4 linked regions of the Homo sapiens genome follow. The protein of the gene in region 1 purifies or fractionates together with the protein of each later gene. This does not show direct contact. Each region holds a gene or a part of one and is shown in the gene's direction. Other genes may lie near its edges.

Region 1 (7,000 bases):
TGATGGGCAGGCACACCCAGCAGGGTTACAACAAGCCATTTATCCCCTGGTGCGCAGGTCCTGCCCCAGTTCCTCATAGGCTGAGTACTATGGGGGTTACAGTCTTCCCAGACTTCGCCTATTGGTTGTTGGGTAGGGGCTGTAGGGCACAGGTTCCTCCCCCAGATCCTCATAGGCTGAGTACTATGGGGGTCACAGTCTTCCTGGACTTCGCCTATTGGTTGTTGGGTAGGGGCTGTAGGGCACAGGTTCCTCCCCCAGATCCTCAGAGGCTGAGTACTATGGGGGGGGGTCACAGTCTTCCTGGATGTCGTCTATTGGTTGTTGGGTAGGGGCTGTAGGGCGCAGGTCCCTCCCCCAGATCCTCATAGGCTGAGTACTATGGGGGGGGTCACAGTCTTCCTGGATGTCGTCTATTGGTTGTTGGGTAGGGGCTGTACGGTGCAGGTTCCTCCCCTGGTTCCTCATAGGCAGAGTACTATAGGGTCGCAGTCTTCCTGGACGTTCCCTATTGGTTGTTGGGCAGGGGCTGTAGGTATTTTCTTTAGGGTTGTCCTGCTTTATTTTGTCGTGGCCCACAATGCATTGCAATCCCAGTCAGCTCAGGGGCTCTTCAAGTATTTGATTTATGACCTAAGTAGCTGGGCAGGCTGATAAGAACGGACAAAACGAGCTATTTTGCGGGCTAGTAAACTTTCATCTTAGACTAATCTTCTTTGGTTTGGGTGAGGGCAACTAAGGGGTGGGGAATGGCCAACAAGCAGGCATCGGCTATCCAAGTAGGGGCCTAGTACATCCTGTTTTTCTGTAGTTTGCTGACCTAAGCCAATTCAAGGCACTTTGTCTTGGAAATGGACCACTGTATATATTATTTCCTTCAACCATAACCAGCTCCAAGTCACAGGTGGTGCCTGCATTTCCAGAGGTGCTGGGGAGGAAGAAGAGTGTTATCTTTCTGAGATTCCTTTTACTGGCATTGAGAACGACATGGTTTCAAAGCTGAGCACTGGAATCAGCTTGCCCTGGGGGGGGAAGAACAGGACCAAGAAGTGTAAAACCACTCCTGCAGAGGCCCGAGAAAGGCAGCACGTGGAGGCATGCACATGCCTGTATGTGGGGGGTGCACACCCATATACGTGGGGGCACACACTGTGACCTGTGATTGCCAGGATGCTTTCTGGAGACCGAGCCAGCTGCCAGCAAGCAGTGACTCGGGCAATTTCCTAACAGAGATAAGATAGTGTTTCCAGTGCCTTTCTGAAGAGTGTGATTTTTCCAGTCAGTGTTTCTCCAGTTGGAATCTGTCAGTGATTTGGATCAGGGACACGGTGTTGAGGGCGGAATGGGGAGGCATGTGGTGCTCTGTGCAATGTGCAGTGTGTGTTTCATAGAGAAGGCAACGTAATCACAACAGCCAATCCACGCACTGTTCTTTAGTGCTTGCCCACATTGCCCCGTCTCACAGATGAGGACACTGGAGCACAGAGAGGTTCAGGAACTTGCTCAAGGTCACACAGCCAATAGATTTTGAAACCTAGATGTGGATCCAGGCAGTCTGGCTTTGAGATCATTGTTCCGAACATCTGTTTCTACTCCCTCAGGAAATACAGATATGGATATAAATACATATAATAATGTGAGTATAAACAACTAGCAGCATTAATGACAGTATTGTAAAAATTAGCTATGATCCTTCCACACTGTGACTGTAAAATTGTGTGAATGTTATATGCATTTTACACAGCTAAAATCAGCGTGTATACGTTCATCTTCCACCTTCCCTTATTTGTCACGACTTTACAACGCCACCGAGTTGATGTGTCAATCTGCTTCTGAAATGCTGCTCGCTGAGGCTTTGTTTGCTGCTGATCGTAGAGAACACCACGGCAGACATCTCTGTCCCTGTCTTTTAGTTTCATTTTAATGATTGAGTTGGGCTGAGTCCCCCAGACCAGACATGGCTCTGGCTATTTGCTCAGTAAGCAGGCGATTTCGGGGGCTGCCGAGGGCCAGGTGCTGCGGCAGGCACTGGAGAAACGGCCGAGACACTGAGTGTGGGGCCCCGGAATTCAGACCATGTCAAAGGCTTTGGGATAGAAACAGTGGTGTGCTGGGTCAGCAGCAGAGTGCCGGCTCTTCAGGAAGTCAGTTCCGGCTCCAAAGGCCGCCGGAAGGAGTCCTGGTTCTTTTCTTTCTGATTCTTTTGTCTACTGTTTACATCTTTTAAGGGTAAGAGATTGGGTTTTTGTTTTTTAACTTAGTATATACGGTTCTGGTTGTTAGTAGTTCTTTTGGAAATAGATTTTGGATATATCATGTTTTACAAATTAGTTGGTTAACAAAACATTCTCTGATTCTCTTTTCCATGGAAGCAATTGCATCTGCAAAGGAATGCCCTGTGTGTGATTCCTCAAGATTTCTTTCAGTTGCTTCCGAACCTGACTTGGCTGGACCTCCGGTACAATAGAATTAAAGCGCTTCCTTCTGGGATTGGAGCTCACCAGTAAGTTGTTTATGTTTCCAGATTTTAAAAATCATCTTTTCAGTGCACGAGTGCCTGTTCTTTCGCTCCTTGTCCTTTACTCTTGATTAAATTTTTACCTCGGAATAGAAACATTTAATAGTATTTTTAAAGCCAGCTAAGAGGTTGCGACGGCTGAATGTACCCAACACAGAACTATAACTTGGGATATTTGGTGCCACAGAGAATGCTGTAGCCACAGTGTCTTTTTGCTGGGCAGCCAGTGTGATTTTTGTCACAGCCGATTCCAGCTCTGACTCTCCTTGTGTGAAGCTGTCTGAAAATCAGAAATACCTCTGATGAGTTAAACCAGCAACTTTGGCCAGGCGCGGTGGCTCACGCGTGTAATCCCAGAACTTTGGGAGGCCGAGGTGGGCAGATCACCTGAGGTCAGGAGTTTGAGACCAGCCTGGCCAACATGGCAAAACCCTATCTCTAATAAAAATACAAAAATTTGCCAGGCGTGGTGGTGGGTGCCTGTAATCCCAGCTCCTCAGGAGGTTGAGGCAGGAGAATTGCTTGACCCCAGGAGGCAGAGGTTGCAGTGAGCTGAGATCACACCACTGCACTCCAGTCTGGGTGACAGAGTAAGAGTCCGTCTCAAAAAAAATAAATAAAAAATAAACCAGCTCCTTTGCTCCTGAGGGCTCCTGGGTAACCCACATTGGTTCTTGGCAAATAGTGAGAAATTCTTCTCACTTTGGAAAACTGGGAGCACCCAACCAAGCTCCAGGTGTCCTGTCCATTTCCACCACTTCCCTTCCAGGAGTTTCCTTGCATTCCCACTTGTGGGGTGTAATCCTGCCCATGGTGGAAACGTCACACCTCCTTTCCCCTCCTCAGCCTGGCCCTTCCCCAGCAGCCAGGACTCTACTCTCACTATGGAGACGTCCTCCTTTCCTGAGCTCTCTGCTTCTGTGCCCACATCCCCGGCGCCATGGCTTTTTCACCTTCTGAAGCCATGATTGCCCTTAACTCTTTTTCTTTTCTTTCTTTCTTTTTTTTTTTTTTTTTGAGACGGAATCTTGCTCTGTCTCCCAGGCTGGAGTGCAGTGGCGTGATCTCGGCTCACTGCAACCTCTACCTCCTGGTTTCAAGCGATCCTCTTGCCTCAGCCTCCCAAGGAACTGGAATTACAGGTGCCCGCCACCATGCCCGGCTAATTTTTGCATTTTTAGTAGAAACGGGGTTTTGCCATGTTGGACAGGCTGGTCTCAAAGTCCTGACCTCAAGTGATCTGCCTGCCTTGGCCTCCCAAAGTGCTGGGATGACAGGCATGAGCCCCCGCGCCCGGCTACCTGAACCTCTTTTGACAAGTGCTGATATGAAGGCCCCATATCAGCTGGGGCCACGGCAGCAGCCCATGCAGGAGGGGCAGCCTGGGCGTGGCTGGCCACGGCAGGGCCTGGGTGGGACTTCAGAGCTGGTGGGATGCGGGTGGGTGTGGGGCCACAAGAAGAAGAGGGGTATCCAGGGTGCCCCCAGTTCCTACGTGAGGAATGGTGTCTCCCAAGAGCCATGGTGGCCTCCGTGGGACAGTAGAATAGAGGCTTGTAGGAGGCCCTTCACTTGCCTTGAACTCACTGGTTTTAAAAATGTTTTATAAGAAGTCAGTGTATTTTGCCACAGGTAATGGGAGGGAACCATGCATCACTCACCCTTCAGGCTCTGCGAGGAAGCTGCTTATCTAATGATAGGTGGTGTCCGGAGCAGGTGGAAACACACCCGGTGCATCTCCATGGGGCTCCTAGGGACTCTGGGGTCTGCAGGGCGGACCACAGACGGACCTGGAGGAGAAGAGTGTTCCGGGGCTCAGCTGGTACATCTGCCGAGCCCGGCCAGCCGCTTGTGTTTTGGGAGCTGCATGGGAGCCAGGTGCTCTCTGGGCAGTTGTCCACCCTGTCCTCACGGCCTCGGGAGGCTTCCAAGCCTGAGGCTGAGAGTGCTTTGGGAAGGATTTCTTCTTCACACGATCATCATCTTCTGGGTTTAGAATCACTGGGTGCTCTTTTGTCCACAAATTGTTTTAGCCTTACACAGTTCTGGAGAGTAAGTGCTACTCAGAGGATGTAAATGAACTAAGACCTGTTCCCATAACTACTCGTGTTTTCCCTAAAATAAGTGTACAGTCCTCAAAATTTGAAATTCTTTGATTTTGCTAGTCAAAGCTGGCTGCCTATGTTTTTGGAGGTATACTTTTATTTGTGATTTGTAACCCATGATAACATTCAAATTAGATCAACTACAGAGCTGAGACATATTACTCGGAAATACAAAGTGATTGTGGGCTTATTAAAGCCTTAAACCTCTCAAAACATAATTAAAACAGTGACGGTGTTAGCATGCCACCTTCTCAGTGTCCTGGATGTGTCAGCTTGCTGGCAGAGAGAAGATGTAGGAAGCATGGATCCGTTCATTTACCTCCTTAGGCCAACAAGTCCAACTCAACGTTTACGTTTATATATTCATTTTAAAATCAATGAAACGAATCAACGGGTAAGCTTTGAATTATTGATAGTATTTAAGGAATTAACATTTATCAATTTATCGTTTAAAGTGTGCTCAGAATATTTTAATAATATTATTATATAAGGTAGAAAAACCCGTGCTGTACTTTCAGGTTAATAGTCAGTAAACATGCACCCCCCGCAATCCCTCTCAGGCAAAACCGAACCCAGCCCCACCCAGCAGCACGTGAGTGGGCCAGAACCTTTCTGCCTTGACAAAGCCCTAGCATTGGAGAAGCCGAGAGCGTGGTGCTGCTCTTGCTGCCCTCCTCAGCATCTGGAGGCCTCTGTTCACCTTATAGAGAGCAGATGCTGTTCTTGTTGGCTGGTTTTATACTAGCAAAATTCAGAGGGAGTAAACCAAAAACAGTGAACTGAACGAACCACATTGAAATAATCCACTTTTGTGCAGTTCAAGAAAAGTTTGCTTCATAAAGTTTATTCCTTAAAAACTTCAAATAATGGCCAGGCACGGTGGCTCACGCCTATAGTCCCAGCACTTTGAATGGCCGAGGTGGGCGGATCACAAGGTCAGGAGTTCGAGACCAGCCTGGCCAACATGGTGAAACTCCGTCTCTACTAAAAAAAAAAAGTACAAAAAAATTAGCCAAGATCACACCACTGCACTCCAGCCTGAGCCACAGAGTGAGACTCCATCTCAAAAAAAAAAAAAAAAAATTCAAATAACAAGGAAAATCCAAGAAAGTAAGTAGAAAGAAAATTGTCTAAACCTTAAGTAATCTGATTTTCCTGTGGGGTTACCAATAAAAAAATTAAAGGTAATTTAAATGAGGGCTGGGCATGGTGGCTTATGCTTATAATCCCAGCACTTTGAGAGGCTGAGGCGGGAGGATCACTTGAGCCCAGGAGTTCAAAACTGGCTTCAGCAACATGGGAATACCCTGTGTCTACAAAAAATACCAACATTAGCCAGGCATGGTGGCACACACCATTAGTCTCAGCTCAGCCAGGCGTGGTGGCACACACCATTAGTCTCAGCTTAGCCAGGCATGGTGGTACACACCGTTAGTCTCAGCTACCTGCGGGGACTGAGGCGGGAGGATTGCTTGAGCCCAGGAGGCGGAGGTTGCAGTGAGCAGAGGTTGCAGTGAGCTGAGATTGTGTCACTGCACTCCAGCCTGGGCAACAGAGTGGAGACCTTGTCTCAAAAAATAATCATCATAATTAAATGTGAAAACCAAGAAGCATAGTACAATAAAAGTTACAAAATAGAGTTTAATAGAATATATAGATTTTTCCATCATTCAACTAGTAAATTTTTACATTCTTTCCTGTCCGTCTGTCTAGGCATCCATGATATATTTTGGGCTGCATTTTATAAGGATGTTACTAGGTGTTAAATGAAAGTAGATGCCTTCCCGAAATGCTGCCTTAGCTGAGTTTCTTACGTAGAGGCTTCTCAGAGTCCCCAGTGTATGAATCATTCATCTCCAAGCAGGGCAGGTTATACTGTGCGGTGGAAGTCTCTCAAACATTTTTGGCCGTAGAAAACTTTTTTCACAGAGCATGATAAAACACTGGGATTCCTCACTGCACATCTTAGGAAAGACTGGTTTACAGTGAGGTTATAACTGGAAGGTGTGAAAGCCTAAAATAGAGGTTCTTAACGGGGAGATTTTACCCCCAGGAGACTGTTGGCAATGTCTGGAGACATCTGTGGTTGTCACGCCTGGGGGTGGGTGGTACCCCTGGCATCTGTTGGAGAAAGGCTGGAGGTGTACAATACCCCGCAAAGCAGGGGACACCACCACCCCTATGGACTGCCTGGTCCCATGTGTCAGCGGTGCAGGGCTTAGACCTGTGTTTGCATATGACAGCAGACCATTTGTGTGTACATGTTGTAAATTTAAGTGTATCTGTATTGAAGTTGCCCCTGAAAGAGAAGAAAAATGAAGAAACTTGATGGTATATTTTGGAGATAGTCAATTAAATCTTGCTTTTTAAATTTTTT
Region 2 (3,872 bases), on another chromosome or scaffold:
TTGAAAAAGGGTATGTTATATGCCCCTTTCATAGGCTGCTAGGGAGTTTTCCTGGTTCTACTTTCAGGTGGTGGGATCAATAAGACCAGAATTTCTCATATGTTGTGAGAGGATTCAAATGTTACAGGGTTGCCAGCCAAACTATCAATCATGTATAAATCCAACAAACACTTTGTAACATACAAGAACTCAGGAAATGTGAACCATTGTTGGAGAATCTACTAAAATACGGCTTCCCGCAAACGAAGATGAATGGAAAATGTAAATAAAAAGAACTGGCAGTGTATATCAGATGTTTAACTATAGGACCAGAACTAAGATGTGGAGACTATTGCCATAGACCACAATGTAAATTTTTAAGTGAGGAAGGAAAAATCAGGAATCAAAAGGGGCCAGGTGCAGTGGCTCACATCTATAATCCCAGAGCTTTGGGAGTTCGAGGCAGGAGGATCACTTGAAGCCAGTTTTGAGACCAGCCTATGCAACACATTGAGACCCTATCTCTACAAAAAATAGATTAGCTGGGCACGGTGGTGCATGCCTATTGTCCTACCTACTGTGGAGGCTGAAGTAGGAAATCACTTGAGCCCGAGAGTTTGAGGTTACAGTGAGCTATGATTATACCACTGCACTCCAGCCTGGGCAAGAGAGCAAGACCTTGTCTCTTAAAGAAAAAAAAAAAAAATGGAGAAAGTAGATAGTAGTATAAATATAGTGAAGTCTTTAAAAGCTAGGAGTTAAAAGATATTTAAAGCAAATAACTCAGGCATGGTGGTGTGTGCCTGTAGTCCCAGCCACTAAGGAGGCTGAGGCAGGAGAATCACTTGAACCCGGGAGGCAGAGGTTGCAGTGAGCCAAGATCGTACCACTGCACTCCAGCCTGGGCAACAGAGTGAGACTCTTTCTCCAAACTAAATAAGAGATATTTAAAGCTGAAAAAAAATCTATTAATAGAATTTAAAACATTTCACAAAAGTCAACACATAAATAATATCAACCAAAATAAAGTGGTAGACAGAAGAGAAAATATACTAATTTATTGTTCAAAGAGGAAAATAAGTCTCAAAGGTTAAGGCTATTATATAAATTTATTTTTAAAAAGACATAAACCTACATTTTCAGAAGAAGAAGTTCCATGTTTCCTTAGATTATGTATTTAGCATCCATTAATCACAGGGCCAAACTAACAACAAAAGTTGTTTAGCTTTCCCTTACAATCCAGCTTTTATGGGTGTGCAAACATCACATTACAGTCCCTCCAACCACAAACCCCAACATATAGTATTTCACTTCCTGCCCAATAGTGGGTGTCCCCACACCTTTCAACCACTGTAGCAACAAAGCTCTGGCCTAGGCTTTTCACTTGCTTCTTTACTGCCTGACTGACTTTGGTGTTTCCTCATGTGGCCTGGTGTGGCATGGCACGCCCTCTTGGGAGATGAAAGTAATCTTCCATAGGCAATTGTTTCTGTGTCACCATTGCTGATTAAAACAAATCCTAAGTACAAATGTCAGAACAGAAACATGCAAAGCAAGAAAACATTACATCATGAAAGTTTCTTTTTTTTTCTTTTTTCTTTTTTTTTTTTTTTTGAGACAGAGTTTTGCTCTTTTTGCTCAGGCTGGAGTACAGTGGCGCGATCTTGGTTCACCGCAACCTCCGCCTCCTGGGTTCAAGCGTTTCTCCTGCCTCAGCCTCCCAAGTAGCTGGGATTATAGGCATGTGCCACCATGGCTAATTTTGTATTTTTAGTAGAGACGGGGTTTCTCCATGTTGGTGAGGCTGGTTTTTAACTCCCGAACTCAGGTGATTGCCTGCCTCGGTCTCCCAAAAAGTGCCGGGATTACAGGCGTGAGCCATTGTGCCCAGCCAAAAGTTTCTTTTTCAAGAGATGGTGGTCTTGCCATGTTGTCCAGTATGGACTTGAACTACTCAGCTCAAGCAGTCCTCCCACCTCAGCCTCCTGAATAGCTGAGACTACAGGCATGCACCACTACACCTGGCTGCGAGATGAAATTTTAAGAGATGGGGGTCTTGTTCTGTCGCCCAGGCTGGAGTGCAGTGACATGATCAAGCCGTGATCTCCTGGGCTCAAGCAATCCTCCTACCTCAGCCTCCTGAGTAGCTGGAACTACAGGAATGCAACACCATGCCCAGCTAATTTTGATTTTTAGTAGAGATGAGGTCTTCCTTTGTTGCCCAAGCTGGTCTCAAACTCCAGGGCTTCCTGAGTAGCTGAGACTACAGGTGTGAGCCACCATGCCCAGCCTCCTCTCTTTTCCAATATTGTGTTAAGTAAATTGTATTGGTGGTAATCAACTTGATCATTTCATTTTTAGGATAGAGATATCAAGGTGAGGGTATAACTGAACGAGAAGAGGAATAAACACCACCCTGTGATTGATGGATCTTTATAGCTCTCCTTTGATAAAGAAGGGAAATATCGTACTTACATTAGCATGTTATAGTTGCTGTTGTTATACAGAAGAATATTAAACAATATTCATATATTGTTTATGAATGCATTGAATTCATAAACAATGGTATGGATATTGACTAGCCAAAGAGGTGGATAAATGTAGATACAATGATACGGTGATTTGGTATTCAGTGTCCATTCTGCTCTCCTAGTGTGCCTTCCTATAATGCAGGGGCTGGAAGGTGAGAAAATAACCACATTTCCCAGACTCCCTTTGCAGGTAGATTTCCAGATGTGAATTGGGTTCCACTGATCAGACACCCATGTGTGAGATTTGGAATGCAGAACTGAGGAGAGAGCCATCTTCCTCTTGCTTGTGTTCTGGTGGCATGTGTGGTTGAGGAGACATTTAATTTCCCTGCAGCAGAATTCTTGCAGTCAGTTGTTGAGGCAAGTGGCGTGGTGGATGCAACCCTGATTCTTCACCTTTCTCATTATTGTGGGGTAGCAGCGCCTCTGGCAAGCCAGACAGACCTGCAGTGTTTTTCTGGGAGTTAATTCTGGAGACCCAGTATGGAACCCACTCCTAGCCCTTGTGACAATATTGCAAGCATCCAGTTCCCTGTTTTACAGTCCTTTTAAATGTGGCTAGCTACAGTAGTTTGTGTTTCCTGCAACTAATCACTCATACATCTGTATCTAAAGCACTCCACCTGGGTCATGTACTATACTTAAAATTATAAGGCAATATTAATTCACAAAACTACCTACTCGTTTTATTTAACCCTCAGAAGAACTGAAAACAAAAGCTATACCAGGCTTGCTCTAGAGCGTGGGCTTGGGAATGGAAAGGCAGAGTGCACCTATTGAATTCCATCATCAGTTTTTCTATACCATGGAGTTACTTACCATGTGTATACATAACACTGATTAAAAATTTTAAAAAAAAGGTTAAAACAAAAACTGAGCCAGATTCTGACATTTAAATCAGAATTATTCTTAGTACATAGACTTGCAAAGTCACTGAATAATTCCTTGGGACTACAGACTCTTAGTCTTTGCTTCTAGAAATGTATAGTAATTTCAACATGTCATATATATAGAGAGAGTATATATGTGTATATATATACACACACACACACACTATATAGAGTATATATATACACTCCATATACAGTATATATACTAGTGTGTATATATATATACACTAGAGTATACACACTCTAGAGTATACACTCTATAAAGTATATATATTATATATACTATATATTATATATACTATATACTCTACAGTATATATATACACTATAGAGTGTATATATATACTATACAGATATGTATAGAGTATATATACTCTATATATACACTATATATAGTCTATATACTCTAGAGAGTACAGTATATATATATAGTGTATATATACTCTATGGAGTGTATATATATTCTCTTTCT
Region 3 (7,761 bases), on another chromosome or scaffold:
TCTTAACACAACCCAATAACACCCATCACACCGAAGGAGGCCATGCTGAAGCCAGTGCCATCAGCAACAGGAAGAAGGCAAGGATGCCTACTGTGATTCAACAATGATTCCAAGGTTTGGTTCAATGCACCAAGACAGGAAAATAAAATGATTAGTATCAATATTTGAGAAGAAGGGAAAAATATTTTTTATTAGAAAATGTTATTATAATCTAGGAAATCTGAGACTCTCCTAAAACATTAATATTATTAAGAGAATTTGGTCAAAGTGACTGGTTGCAAGAAATATGTCCAAGGCTGGGAGTTGTGGCTCACACCTGTAATCCCAGCACTTTGGGAGGCTGAGGCGAGTGGATTGTTTGCGGCTAGCAGTTCCAGATCCATCTGGGCAACATGGTGAAACCCTGAATCTACAGAAAATTCAAAAGTTAGCCGGGCATAGTGGCGTACACCTATAGTTCCAGCTACCTGGGAGGCTGAGGTGGAAGGCTTGAGTGACTGTAATCACACCACTGCACTCCAGCCTGGTCAACAGAGTGAGATCTTGTCTAAAAAAAAAAAAAAAATTTACAATCCAAAAGCCAGTAACTTTCCTTTAACTGGCAATGACAAAACAAAAAACAATACGGGAGAAACATTACATTCATAAAAGCAACAGAAGATATTGTGTCAATAAATTGAACAAAAACAGGGTCTATATGGGAAAAACTATAAAATTGGATTGATAGACAAAGACAAAAAGCCTAAAAAAATGAAGAGATATACCAGGATCCTGTTTGGAATGCTTAAAGTATTCATTTCTCCTAAATATATAAAAATATTTAAGTCCTTCCTATCAGAATGGAGGGGGATAGGATATACTGTATAAAATGACTTTAAAAGTTTAAAATGGTTTCCTAAAAACTAGGCCAGGCACAGTGACTCACACCTGTAATCCCAGCACTTTGGGAGGCCAAGGCAAGAGGATTGCTTGAGCCCAGGAGTTCCAGACAAGCCTGGGCAACACAGCAAGACCTTGTCTCTATTAAAAAACAAAAATATTAGCCAGGTGTGCGTGGTGGTGTAATCCCAGCACTCTGGGAGGCCGAGACTGGTGGATCACCTGAGGTCAGGAGCTTGAGACCAGCCTGGCCAACATGGTGAAACCCCATCCCTACTAAAAATACAAAACTAGCTGGGTGTGGTGATGGGCGCTTGCATTCCCAGCTACTCGGGAGGCTGAGGCATGAGAATCGCTTCAATCTGGGAGGCGGAGGTTGCAGTGAGCCGAGATCGCTCCACTGCACTCCAGCCTGGGCAACAGAATGAGACACTGTCTCAAAAACAAAAACAAAAACAAAAACAAAAACAAAAAAACAGCCAGGTGTGGTGGTGCGTGCCTGTAGTCCCCGCTACTTAGGAGACTGAGGTGGGGGGATGGCTTGAACCCAGGAGATTGAGGCTGCAGGGAGCTTGATCACACCACTGCATTCCAGCCTGGGCAACAAAGTAAGATCCTGTCCCCCCCCAAAAAAAATAGTAAAATGCTTCAACAGTTTTGGGAAGTTACTGTAAAGCTACCTGGGGCAAACACTACTAAGTGCTTACCTAGTATTAACTCCTTTCTTAGTAACAAAATTTGTATATTGATGGGGTAGCAATGTGTTTCCTCAATAATATTACAATATAACTTTTAAACCTATAAGGAGGCTTTCCCAGCCTCCTTTAAAGGTATGGCTATGTGGCTAAAGTATAAGCAAAAGTGGTTGGGAAGGACTTCTAGAAAGACTCCTCTTCAAAAATGTATAGACAACGGTTTGCAAAAGTCATTTTTTTGTTTCTTTTTTCCCTTTTCATTTCATTTCTCTTTTCACTCTCTTTTCTTGCTTTATGTTTTTAAAATTTTATTTGCCCTTTCTTCTTCCTACTTTCTGCTACCTGGAATGGAATGTGAATCTGATGGCTGGAATTCCAGAAGCCATCTTGGACAATGAGGTGACTGTAAGGATGGAGATTAATTCGAGGACAGTGGAGTGGAACGATGGAGGCCTGATGAACGTGAAGCCACCATTTTAGCCCTGGGCTACCTATCTCTGAAATTATTTTATCTGACGAGAGAAATAAACTTCTATTTTGTCTCAGCTACTATTGTTTTAGGACTTGGCTATGTCACAGATCTAAAACCCACTTGATTTACTCCTGCAATCAAAATATATTGACACAGAAAAGACAACAAATAAATCAGTGGAATAAAACAGAAAATCCAGAAACAGATTCAAGTGTTTATGGGGACTTGATACATGAAAGATCACAATTCAAGTCAGTTGAAGAATGTTTTATTTACTAAGTATAACTGCTGACATGCTGGCTGTTTGTCAGGAATAAAACAAAGCTAAATCCTTCCTCACATCACAAATAAGATTAATTCTAGGTGGATTAGCGAACTAAAGGCAAAACGTAAGTAAAATTAATAAAACAAAAATTGGAAGAATATTTGCATAAGCTTAGGTCGAGGAGACCTTATTAAACAAAGCAGGAAACCTAAAACCCATACAGGAAAAGAATTGCACAGTGTTGTGTGGTAGAAAAAAAAACCCACAAAGTTAAAAGACAGGTTGGGAAAAATATGTATGTAACACATTTGATATCCATTGGTTATTGCTGATGGTGGGAAACTGCAAACATTTTCCGTAAAGAGCCAGAGAGTAAATATTTGAGGCTTAAGGGTGTGAACCCCAAAAGAGGTTCATGATGGATCCGGAGTGGCTAACTAGGCCTAAATTCAAAATACAGCCAAGCAGCCATTGGCTGACTAGAGGTCACACATACTTCGGTTTTTGTTTGCTTTTTTTTTTTTTTAGGCGGAGTCTCGCTCTGTTGCCCAGACTGTAGTGCAGTGGCACAATCTCGACTTACTGCAAGCTCCGCCTCCCGGGTTCACGCCGTTCTCCTGCCTCAGCCTCCCAAGTAGCTGGGACTACAGGTGCTCGCCACCACGCTAGGCTTTCTTTTTTTTTTCTTTTTTTTTTTTTTAGTAGAGACGGGGTTTCACCGTGTTAGCCAGGATGGTCTCGATCTCCTGACCTCGTGATCCTCCCGCCTCGACCTCCCAAAGTGCTGGGATTACAGGCGTGAGCCACCGCACCCGGCCTTTGTTTGCTTTTTGAGACACGATCTTGCTCTGTCGCCCAGGCTGGAGTGCAGTGAGGCGATCATGACTCACTTCAGCCTCGACCTCCCGAACTCAAGCGCTCCTCCAGCCTCAGCCCCCAGAGTGGCTGAGATCACAAGAACCCGCCACCACCGCCCGCTAATTTTTTGTAGAGAAGGGGTTTCGCCACGTTGCCCAGGCCGATCTTGAACTCCTGGGCTCAAGTTAAGGGAGGAGACCACCCCTCATATTGTCTTACGCCCAATTTCTGCCTCCAAAGAAAGAAAAAGTAAAACTAAAAGGCAGAAATGAAATCCACAAGCAGACAGCCCGGCCTCACACCCTAGGCTTGGTAAAGATGGACCCCTGACCTAATCAGTTATGTTATCTATAGATTACAGACACTGTATAGAAAAGCACTGTGAAAATCCCTATCCTGTTTTGTTCTGATCTAATTACTGGTGCATGCAGCCCCCAGTCACGTACCCCCTGCTTGTTCAATTGATCACGACCCTCTCAGGCGCACCCCCTTAGAGTTGTGAGCCCTTAAAAGGGACAGGAATTGCTCATTCGGGGAGCTCGGCTGGTGAGACAGGAGTCTTGCCGATGACCCCAGCCGAATAAACCCCTTCCTTCTTTAACTCGGGTGTCTGAGGAGTTTTGTCTGTGGCTCGTCCTGCTACAAAGTGATCCGCCTGCCTCGGCCTCCCAAATGCTGGGATTACAGGCGTGAGTGACCGCACCTGGCCTGGGATGGACATTTTAAAGGTTCCTGATACATATTGCTAAATTGTTTTCTCGAAACGCTCTATACCATCCCACCAGCATTGTATGACGCCTACGGTTGAGATTTTTGGCTCAAAGAATTACGGTGTATTTCAAGGGGAGAACCCTCTTCTCATCTTACCCCTAAACTCTATCCTTGAGTGACCTACCTTCACTCCCAAGCCTCCAGTCACCCACTGGGAATCTCTACCTGGAAATCCCAGAGGCACTCAAACTTAACGTGTCCAAAACTAAATTATCCGTCACCTTCCCACCTCATATCCCCCCAAATGCCCCAGATTCAGAAAACATACCCATCACTGTGGCTGGCACCACGGTGATAAGCACGATAATAACCATGGCAACCAGATTCCCTACTGAAGCCATTCTTTTAGGATGAACCAAGGGCACAACAGGCAGAGATGACAAGGGGAATGGAGAAGGGGGTACAGTAAGTTTTAGATAGTCGAAGGCACGCGCACGACAACGCCTGCGCACCACGGAACAGGGCAAAAGGGTGACAAACATGCGCCACTGAGTTTTATCGAGCAGCCGATGCCCAGAAAACAGGCATCCGCACACAGACTCAGTTTCCTTGTAGGCAACTCCCGGGCGTTGCGAGTCACAACCGGCATTCTCGCGCCGTGAGAGAGAACTGCGCAGCTGCTGACTGGCGGGCCGCCAGGCGCGTGCGTAGAGACGCCCACACGCCCGCTGATGCGCACGCGCCCTGGGCCGCGCGTGCGCGCGTGGGGTTCCGGAATGAGCCGGGGAAAGCAAGGGGAAGGTTTGGGGTTGGCTCCCGGTTTCGCGCATGCGTGCACTGCACAAACCATTTGGCGGGTTTTTCCGGCCACTCAGTTCTGCCACCGTCACTGAGAAGCTCAGCGGTAGCTTTTGGGAAGCAGGACGTTCTCACCAGGAGAGCGTCCTCTCGAGATTTCTGCTCCCTCCATTCAGGGCGTTTGGGAGCCACCCCTTCATTTTTTAAAAAAAGTATTTCTCTGTGACCGACGGCCGGGGCCTTCTGACGGTCTGAGGTCTTGCTTGGGCCAGTCACCTCCTGTCACGGTCCGCGGAGGGGGGAAGGATAAGAGGGCGAGGAGCTCATCGCTCGCCACCCCCGTGGGCTTCTTGGGCGCAGGTCGGAGCTGGGTGGGCCGGCTCCCCGGCCCCTGGCTTGGGCGACCATGTCCGCATCCGCCCAGCAGCTGGCGGAGGAGCTGCAGATCTTCGGCCTAGACTGCGAGGAGGCTCTAATTGAGAAATGTGAGTCCCGCACCCCTCCCGCCCTGCAGCCGTGCTCCACGCTCTCGCCCGAGTTCCTCGGCGCCTAGAACCGAAAGTGGAGCGCTTCCAATTTCCACTTCCCCTGGAGCAGAGTTCTCGGTGGCTGTGAGATGAAGAATCAAACTTGAGTTTTGAGATTTAGGATGTGGGGACTTTGAAATGCCCACCGGGTACCGCTTGGATGCCAAATCAAAAATAGGAATATGCAGCACGATTTTAAACCAACTCGAAGTTCCCGAAAGGCGGAATTGGGATGTGCTAGATAGAGACTAGGCACTGGTGGCACCTGAGTTTGGAAATTGTTGAAGCCCCGGTAACAAAGCAACAGATGTGGGGGTTTTGAAATGTAGCTTTTTATTCTTGGCTCCTCCCTTTCCAGCCTACACCTTAAACCTCTGCTGATCCATCAGTTATTTTATCATAGCTGTTGGTGGTCTGTGCAAATATGAATCCCTTGAGGTAGGTTCCTAAAATTGAATTTGAGCTGTGGAAGGAGCTTTAGGGAGCTTTACAGATGGAGAAACAGACAAGGAAAGCTAATTGCCTGAGCTGTCTGTGAAGCCAGGTGTCCTGCCTTGGAGTCCCGTGCTGCATCATACGGGTCCATCGTGTTGGTCAAGCTGTAGAGCAGTGTAAGGAGTCATTTGAAGCAAAGCCTGGGAGATGTGGAAGTTCTAGAATCGGTATGAATGTGCACCTGCCTTAACCACTCAACACTTTGAACTTCTTATATACAAAAAGATAACGAAACGTTAATTTATGGTGAGAAATTCCTTTCAGAAACCAGAATACTTCAAGTCTTCATGCCCAGTGCCTTCTCTCTCTCTCTTTTTTTTTTTTTTTTTTTTTGACAGTCTTGTTTTATCACCCAGGCTGGAGTGCAGTGGTGCAATCTCGGCTCACTTCAGCCTCCGCCTCCCAGGTTCAAGCGATTCTCCTGCCTCAGCCTCCCAAGTAGCTGGGATTACAGGCGCCCGCCACCAGGCCCGACTAATTTTTTTTTGTACTTTTAGTAGAGAAGGGGTTTCACCATGTAGGCCAGACTGCTCTCGAACTCCTGACCTCAAGTGATCCACCCACCTTGGCCTTCCAAAGTGCTGGGATTACAGGCATAAGCCAGCAGGCTCGGTCCTTCTCTTTTTAAAAGAAGACTAGCCAGGTGTGGTGGCTCACGCCTGTAATCCCAGCATTTTGGGAGGCCAAGGCAGGTGGATAATCTGAAGTCGAGAATTTGAGACCAGCCTGACCAACATGGAGAAACCCTGTCTCTACTAAAAATACAAAATTAGTCGGGCGTGGTGGCGCATGCCTGTAATCCCAGCTACTCAGGAGGCTGAGGCGGAAGAATCGCTTGAACATGAGAGGCAGAGGTTGTGGTGAGCCGAGATCACACCATTGCACTCTAGCCTGGGCAACAGGAGCGAGACTCTGTCTCAAAAAAAAAAAAAAGACTTAAGTGGAAAACCTGATCATAGTCAGAAATGTATGTGGTAAGCATGAAATCAGCATGAGAGAAATTAGTTATGTGAACCAGATTTGTAAAGGCTTCAGGCCAAGATGCCAGTTGCTTTCATCTCATGGCAATGGCTTTGGAATTGTGGACTTTGGATCATCAGTAACTTCAGTGGCACCTTAATGTTTCCTGACAGTCAACCGTATTTCCCTGTTTTTTTTGTTGTTGTTTGTTTTGTTTTTTGAGATGGAGTTTCTCATTGCCCAGGCTGGAGTGCAATGGTGCAATCTTGGCTCACTGCAACCTCTGCCTCCCGAGTTCAAGCGGTTCTCCTGCCTCAGCCTCCCGAGTAGCTGGGATTACAGGCTCCCGCCACCACGCCCGGCTAATTTTTTGTATTTTTAGTAGAGATGGGGTTTCGCCATGTTGGGCAGGCTGATCTCGAACCCCTGACCTCCAGTGATCCTCCCACCTCGGCCTCCCAAAGTGCTGGGATTATAGGTGTGAGCCACCACACCTGTTCTACTTTTTGTATTTTCAGTAGAGACAAGGTTTCACCATGTTGGCCAGGCTGGTCTTCAACTCCTGACCTCAGGTGATCCGCCCACCCTGGCCTCCCAAAGTGCTGGGATTACACTGCGCCAGGCCCCTGGTCTCTTTACTCTGAGTCTTCCAGATGATTGTTTTCCACCTTCTCCTGTAACATCCTTCTGTCCCACCCTCACTCTCAGCTGACAAATTTCTATTATTTGCTGAAAAATGTAGAAGCATTAGAAAACTTCGATCAGCTACCACCATTATGTCTCACTGACCCATATCTGTGGCATATACCTAGCCTTCTTTCCTATTATAATGAATAAGCTTTCCGTATTCCTAGCAAAATCCAAGTCCTCCACTTGAGTCCTAAACCCCATTCCTTCTGAAGCAATTAAGGACATCACTGGTAATTCTCCTGTCTTACATATTTTCTATTTTCCTTGCTACAAGATTTTTTTCCTACTAGTATAGAAATGTGCTTCCAATCTTGCCTTTAAAATACTCTGTTGACCCTACTTCCCACTCCAGTTCTCTCCTTCCCAATTACAGCAGACCTCAAAAGGGTCGGCCGGGTGCGGTGGCTCACG
Region 4 (7,046 bases), on another chromosome or scaffold:
TGTTCTTGACACTGCAATTTATAACTTACATGCACATATTAGGAATTTATTTGTTTAGGCCTTCATCTTGTCATTCTTTAGGCTAGTTCTTAAAGGTGGTACTAGCTGGTCTACCCCCCTCCAAATCTGACTAGGGCTTTAACCACTTATACCTATGTTTATTCTTTGGAACACTTGCTGTGAATCAGAATATTGTTAGCTAGAAAATAAGATGTTAAGGGCACGGAAAAAAACCCCACAAAATATATTGGCTAAATCCACTCAAAACTGGAGAAAATACTGTGTGATCTCTTAGGCTCACTAGCCAAGGATGTTCCTTGGGACTCTCCTCTGCACTGCGGTTATTTACATATATACATTAAACATAAAAATATTTCTGAAATAGTGTTATAACTAGTCAGCTAAGTAAAGGAACTGCAAAACTATATTCTTATATTTACTGTGAAAGATAATCAGAAAGAATCTGCTTTATTTAGAACTTGACTAGTCAGTAGTTAAGTATACAGAATGTTCTAGACCTAATGAACTGAATACAGATAAATACAATTTTGTTGTTCTTCATGGAAGAGTGACATTTCAGTAGATCCCCACTCTGCCAGGGGAAGGAATTGTCAAGGTGACTTATTCTTTTGAGCAAGTTCTGATAGTAATTGGAAACTGGTGAATTAGAATGGTAATTAAAGCCCAGTGAAAAATGACCTCCTACTGGAAAAACTGGAGGAATACAGAAGGCTAAAAATAGTGAACACTTAATACCAACAGATTTTCTGAAGGAAGACTTCTTAGTTTCTCTAAATGGGAAATCTTACATTATCCTCTAAAGGAAAAATAAGCAAGTAGTTGAGGAAACTATGTTTTTTTTTTTCCCCCTTTTTCTTGAGACAGTCTCACTCTGTTGCCCAAGCTGAGGGCAGTGGCGTGATCACGGTTCACTGCAGCCTCGACTTCCCAGGCTCAAGCAGTTTTCTTGCCTCAGCCTTACTAGTAGCTGGGACTACAGGTGCATACTACCAGGCTTGGCTAATTTTTGTTTTTTTTTTTTGTAGAGATGAGGCCACTGTGTTGCCCAGGCTGTTTTCGAACTCGTGGACTCAGTGATCCACCTACTTTGGTCTCCCAAAGTGTTGGGATTACAAGTGTGAACCACCACACCCAGCCCAAGTAATGGATTTTTAAGGGCCTCAGTTGCATAGGAGTTTTTTATTCAGGCTGCAAAATTCCTGTGTTTTATTATATATTCCTTTTTATCTGTATTTTCTATTCACAATTCTCTTGTTTCCATAGACCGCCTTTTTCACATATATCCATATATTTATACATTTTGTTGTAAACTCTAGTCTATAGGTATTTTTAATTCACATTGTATATTACATTCTGGAATGTACAAGGAACTAACACAAATCAATAAGAAAACAAATTAGCTTTAGACATTGAAGAATCTCCCCCAACCCATCGTCTATTATTTTTGTCTATGGTGACTTTCGTTTAACAGAAATCCTTGGTTTTTATGTAATCAAATTCATTGTGTTTTTTTTTTTTAAATTAAGAGGTTGGTCTTTTTGAGTCTTAAGAAGTTCCTTTTCATTCGAAGTCATAAAGTTCTTCCCAATAAATTATACAATAAGTTTGTCAGGTTTCTGAAAAACCAAAGCAGATGTTTTTAAACAGCTTTTGATCTCTTGCCTATACGGTGGCTCAACAAACAAGATGCCAGAATTTGCATGTGTGGGGCTGGGTTGTTTTGTGGTAAATAGTGAACTGTCTTAAAGTCCAAAAACAAAGCTTATTATTTCTGGATTGAAAAGGGAATACAGTAAGGGCCCCATGGAAAAGTACTAAGACTTTTTATGAAAATGAGGGGTGGAGGCACTCTGAGTGGTTAGATTTGCTCAACTTGTGTGCACTCGCTCAGTGGAGGAGATAGGAAGAAGGACATGTAAATAATAGGATATTGATTGATATTGATTAATCATTTTGCCGATGCCAAAGGACATACTTCACTGTCTGTGGAAAAGATTGCCTTTTTCTCCCTAGGAAGTTTGAATACCTTTTAAATATGAAATTTCATGTGCATGACCTATTTCCCCACTGCCACACCTCATGCTCACACTAGGCTTATGATTCAGTCACCCACTTAAGTTCACGTGATGTCATTTCAGGGAGAATTGCAGCTACATCCTTTTGAGAAGAAAGCGATTCAGCTGGGCATGTAGGTTAGAGTCTTTAGTTCTTAGTCTTCTCATTCCTCCTGTGAAATTATCTACATTTAACAGCTTTCACTGAGTATTTTCTTCTTTCACTCGACTGTTAGAAGACATTTCCCAACCTGCAAATATGCCATTCCTGCCCCAACATGACCAACTGAGAGCTTCAGGCTTTACATGATTTTTCACAGCCCACTGAGCTTTGTAATATATAGAACACAATCTTTAGAGCTTCAGTCCTTGCTGTGCTATAATACCAACATAATAAGAGTAGCTAATATTTATCAGATGTTTACTATACATCAAACACCAATGTCTCATTTCATGACTTGTGTGACTTAAGAGGTCCAGTTCTTAACACATGGTCTCATTTTAGTATCACAGTTCTGATGATGAAGGCAGGGCTGATGTTTCCTCATCTTGCTGAAGCATGGAGAGGACTTGTCTAAAATCCCATAGCTACTAAGGGGAGCTGGGGCTAAAACCCAGATTTCTTGGGTTTTCACACCCTGCTACTATTAGCTTAAGCCTATCAAATTCTGAGTGCTTATTGGCTGATAGGATAGTCACATCATGGAGTGCCTAAATTAACACTACATGTGAATTTACCGTGTCGACTATAGCTTGAAATGGCGCCCACTGCCTGATGCCTACCAGTCTTTCTATTATACATGCTTCATTAAGCCCTACCTTTTCTCCACATTTCCCAAGAAGTGATTTTCTTTGGTTCTTGAAGTACTTTTGTACAGATCATTGGAGCTTAACTTCGTTCCTTTATCAGGAAGTGTTTTATCTCACCTGCAAGTTCAGTAAACACAATTAGCAAGTGAGGTGGCTTTGGAAAGGAATAGTACACCCTGAAAGAAACATAGTGCCCAGAAACTAGATATTGGATATTGCAAATTTTTCTTTTAGGTTACTAGAGCCACCTTCCTGAAGCCCACTTGGAGAAAGTCACTCAAAATAGTTCTGTGACCACCATTTAGCCCCAGTTCTCATATTGTATACTTGAGACTCTGGACAGTAAGACGAGGCAGGGTTGTAAGTTTGCACCCAATACCAGCTTACAAATATTCTTACATTACTGGTTTGGGTTTTAAATTATCTTTGCCTCTTCTTTCTCATCTTCCCTCACTTTTTTGTCATTTCAATTAAAGAAATATTTGCCAAGTACTGACCTTAGTGTTGCTAGGCATGAGTTCCAAGGAGCTCAGATAGCTTAGAACCAGCCCCATTTGACTTGAGCTTTTCTCGCCTCTTAGCACAGAAGGAATGGGTTGGCGTCATTATGGTTTGTTTTGAGTAACATGTATTCAGTCTGATATGCTATAGGGAGTTGTTGAAGGTGTTTGAGCAGGGGAAGCAACTGGTTTAAAATTGTTGTATAGGAAGATAAATCTGGTAGTGGTGCACAGGATGGATTAGAACACAGGGCGACTGGGTATGGTGGTGATCTCTTACCTTTGTAGGACACTTGATAGTTTACAAGGCACTTCCATAGATGTATGATCTCATTTGCATGGATGCAAACTAGAGCTCAGAGAGGATTGGTGATAGCTGGCCTGTGTAGTAAGGGGTTGAAGAAAGGGGTTGTCACAGGGCGAGGAAGGTGGGACCATTGTGCATGGCATTTTAGAGGCCAAATCTATAAGGCTTGGGATCTAAGTAGATGTTGGTTATCAGGGAGAATAAGGAGTCAGATAATACTGAGATTTTATGGTTAGTCTTCTGGGAAGGGTGTTGCCATTTACAGAAATCAGGAGATGAGACAGAGAATATATGCAAGTTTGGTTTTGAATATTAGATTGAGGGGCAGGTGGGTAGTTGAGGTAGCCATATCCAGTGGACAGTTTAAAAGCTGGGTCTAAGATTGGGGCCAGGTGTTTTTGATATTTAGAAGGTCATTGGTGACTTTAGAAAGTAATTTCAGGAGAGTGGTGGAGGAGGAAGCCATGTCAGAAGGATAAGAAATCGGTGGTTGCTGAGGTGGAACTGTGGGAGTGGGAAGGGCTAGATGAGGGAGCAGTGGGAGGTGTTGGTCATCATGCGCTTTTCCTTAGGTACAGAAAGAAGGGAAATAGAGTGAGCCAGACTGCAAGAGGATTTTGAGGTGGAGAGGGTGTGAGTTTGAGGAGCCTCCAACAGAAAACTTCTTTGTACGGGATTAGGTGAAATCACTTGTGGAGTGAGGAGGAAAAGGATTTGGTGCTAAAAAAAAAAGTAGAAATTGGGACAGTAGATGTTGGAAGTATTGAGGGAGGTCAAGAAAAGGTGAACCAAAGGAGGCTGAACGTTGCAAGTTTTCAGTGACTCCAGTCAGCATAGTTTTGTGGCTTTCCAGTAGGTCGTAGAAACCAGAAAGCAGGATTAGAAGGAGTAAGCATTGGGCCCTTTTCTGGACTGGGAATTAGAAGTCAAGGAGCATGGGGAGAGTTGAGAAGTTCAAGGGTGTTAGCCAGTTATTATTTCATAGTTGGGCAGAGGTGAGTAAAACTCTGTTTGCAGGCCATTATTAGTTCTGGCAATAGGTGAGGGAGAAGGTCAAAGCTAATATTTTAAAGAATAGTTTGGAATTATTGATGGTTTTCAATTATCTCTGCTAAATCATTTTATTTAGGGAGTATCTGCACAGAATTAACAAGGAAAGAGAGCAAAGTCTTGTATCACTGGCCCATTATTGCCTGTTTTCCTCATCTGTAAAACAGGAGTAGTGTAGCCTACCTTCACCTTGGTTTCGTGCTTCACCAGGAATTTTGTGCTGTGTGCAATCTTGTATTAGGCATTGTCACGACTTAATGACCTTTTTGGGCAGCGTTTTCCTATATAGAGTTATGAGTGCATCTTTTATAAACTCCATTTACTCCTTATTGGAGATTATTATAAATTTCTCTAAAGCTCCTCCCTCACACATCTTTTTCACCTTTCATTCTTTGAAGTCAAACTTTCACTTTCTTTAAAGAAGGTCTGAAGAAAACCCTGCGGGATGAGATCAATGCCATTCTGCAGAAGAGGATTATGGTGCTGGATGGAGGGATGGGGACCATGATCCAGCGGGAGAAGCTAAACGAAGAACACTTCCGAGGTCAGGAATTTAAAGATCATGCCAGGCCGCTGAAAGGCAACAATGACATTTTAAGTATAACTCAGCCTGATGTCATTTACCAAATCCATAAGGTAAAGTATTCCCAGGTTCCCATGTGTATTCATTCTGTTATTCTGCAAGCTGTTTCATGTATCAGGGCAGGCTGCTATGCCGAGTGCTCCGGAGAATAAAGAATAAAGAGGCAATTTATTCAGAAAGCAGGTTTTGGACATCAAATAAAAGTTATGTACTGTGTTAAGCACTCAGGATAAGGGAATGAGGTAGGTAGGTTTTCTGCCCTTGAGGCATGTAAACTCTAGTGAAAAACTATGAGAATCTGGACAAATAAGGGTTTTCACACTAGTGAGTGTGAGAAAACTATCTTATTTAAGTTACTGCAACAGCCCTGATGAAGAAATGCTTAAAGGTGGTTGGTATCTTAGCTTTGGCTGCTGTATTACCTGTTACCATAGACTGGGTTATACAAGCACACATTTATTTCTCACAGTTCTGGAAGCTGGAAGTCCACAGTCAAAGTGCCAGCAGATCCTGTGTCTGGTGAGGGCCCTCTTGTTTATAGATAGCTGTCTTTGTATCTACATGACGGAGAGCAGAGAGAGAACAAAAAACTCTCATATTTGTGCTTATAAGGGCACTGCTGTGTTCTCAATGTTTGTGTCCCCATGAGATTCATATGTAAAATCCTAATGCCTAGTGTGATGGTATTAGGAGGTGCCCTTATAAAAGAGGCTCAAGGGCGCTTATTCACCCCTTCCACCATGTGAAGATACAGTGAGAAGATGCTGTCTATGAACTAGAAAGCTGGCGCTCACCCATTATAAAATTCTAAGATACAATTATCATTCATGTATTTTGTATTTTAGTCTAGTTTTCTATACTTGGAGTTTAAAAAATTAAATTGGGATTACATTGCTTCGTACTGTCTTATAATTTGCATTTTTTACTTATATACCATGAGTATTAAATATTCTGGAACATGGTTTTAATAACTTCATAATCTATTCCATGTATATATCATCATTTATTTAACTAATCTCCTTATTCCTAGGCATTAAGTTTATTTTCAGTTTTTCTTGTTCTTTTAAAAAAAACTTAAATTAGTTCTTATAAAACAAATCTCGTAGATAATACATTCCCATTTGACCATACTCTAAATTGCTATTTTTTCCCCAGAGATAACCACTGATATTAGTTGGTGTGTGTCGTCCCAGATTCCTTTGTTAGGCATTTTCATATATGTGTATGTGTGTATACGTGAGTGAATATATATATGTAGAAAACTCATAGTACTCTGTGTATGTTTTTTTAATTTAATGGTGTCATGCTTTACGTATCATTCTATTTTTTTTTTTACTTAACAATACTTTGCAGAATCTTTCCATGTCAGTATTTGTAGATATACACAGTTTTTTTGCTGTCACATGGCATGTAATAAAGTGGATATATTTTAGTTTATTTAGCTGTTTCCCTATGGGTAGATATTTCGGATGTTTGTTATTGTTACTATAAATGTGCGTATCTTGGTTTTTATCTCCCAGTGCTTCTGCAACCATTGTCCATCGACTTAAGAGGGGTTGGGTTTATTCAGTATTGGAAAATCAAGGGGGTCAAGGGATTCCAGGTTGCTAGTCAGATTGAGGTTGAGATGATCCAAGGAGTGGAGCCAGGGAGACGAGTTTCGAAGAGAGCACAAAGGAGCATCAAGATCTTCAGGGTTTCAGTAGGGATGTGATGCTTGT

Evidence for each region.
Region 2: the proteins of LRRC27 (region 1) and MCM8 purify together in Homo sapiens (affinity purification with mass spectrometry; 2 studies listed by BioGRID and IntAct, with this or other methods). This does not show direct contact.
Region 3: the proteins of LRRC27 (region 1) and POLA2 purify together in Homo sapiens (affinity purification with mass spectrometry; 2 studies listed by BioGRID and IntAct, with this or other methods). This does not show direct contact.
Region 4: the proteins of LRRC27 (region 1) and MTR purify together in Homo sapiens (co-immunoprecipitation; 2 studies listed by BioGRID and IntAct, with this or other methods). This does not show direct contact.

The regions. Positions count from the first base shown.
Region 1 is NC_000010.11:132,335,193-132,342,192, forward strand, and holds part of LRRC27 (leucine-rich repeat-containing protein 27), read left to right. Parts: intron 1-2,147; exon of another isoform or gene 2,148-2,229; intron 2,230-2,372; coding exon 2,373-2,503; intron 2,504-7,000.
Region 2 is NC_000020.11:5,995,609-5,999,480, forward strand, and holds the end of MCM8 (DNA helicase MCM8), read left to right. Parts: 3' UTR 1-3,369; downstream 3,370-3,872. UniProt on the Homo sapiens protein: Component of the MCM8-MCM9 complex, a complex involved in the repair of double-stranded DNA breaks (DBSs) and DNA interstrand cross-links (ICLs) by homologous recombination (HR).
Region 3 is NC_000011.10:65,257,209-65,264,969, forward strand, and holds the start of POLA2 (DNA polymerase alpha subunit B), read left to right. Parts: upstream 1-4,753; 5' UTR 4,754-5,084; coding exon 5,085-5,163; intron 5,164-7,761. UniProt on the Homo sapiens protein: Accessory subunit of the DNA polymerase alpha complex (also known as the alpha DNA polymerase-primase complex) which plays an essential role in the initiation of DNA synthesis.
Region 4 is NC_000001.11:236,798,265-236,805,310, forward strand, and holds part of MTR (methionine synthase), read left to right. Parts: intron 1-5,163; coding exon 5,164-5,378; intron 5,379-7,046. UniProt on the Homo sapiens protein: Catalyzes the transfer of a methyl group from methylcob(III)alamin (MeCbl) to homocysteine, yielding enzyme-bound cob(I)alamin and methionine in the cytosol. MeCbl is an active form of cobalamin (vitamin B12) used as a cofactor for methionine biosynthesis.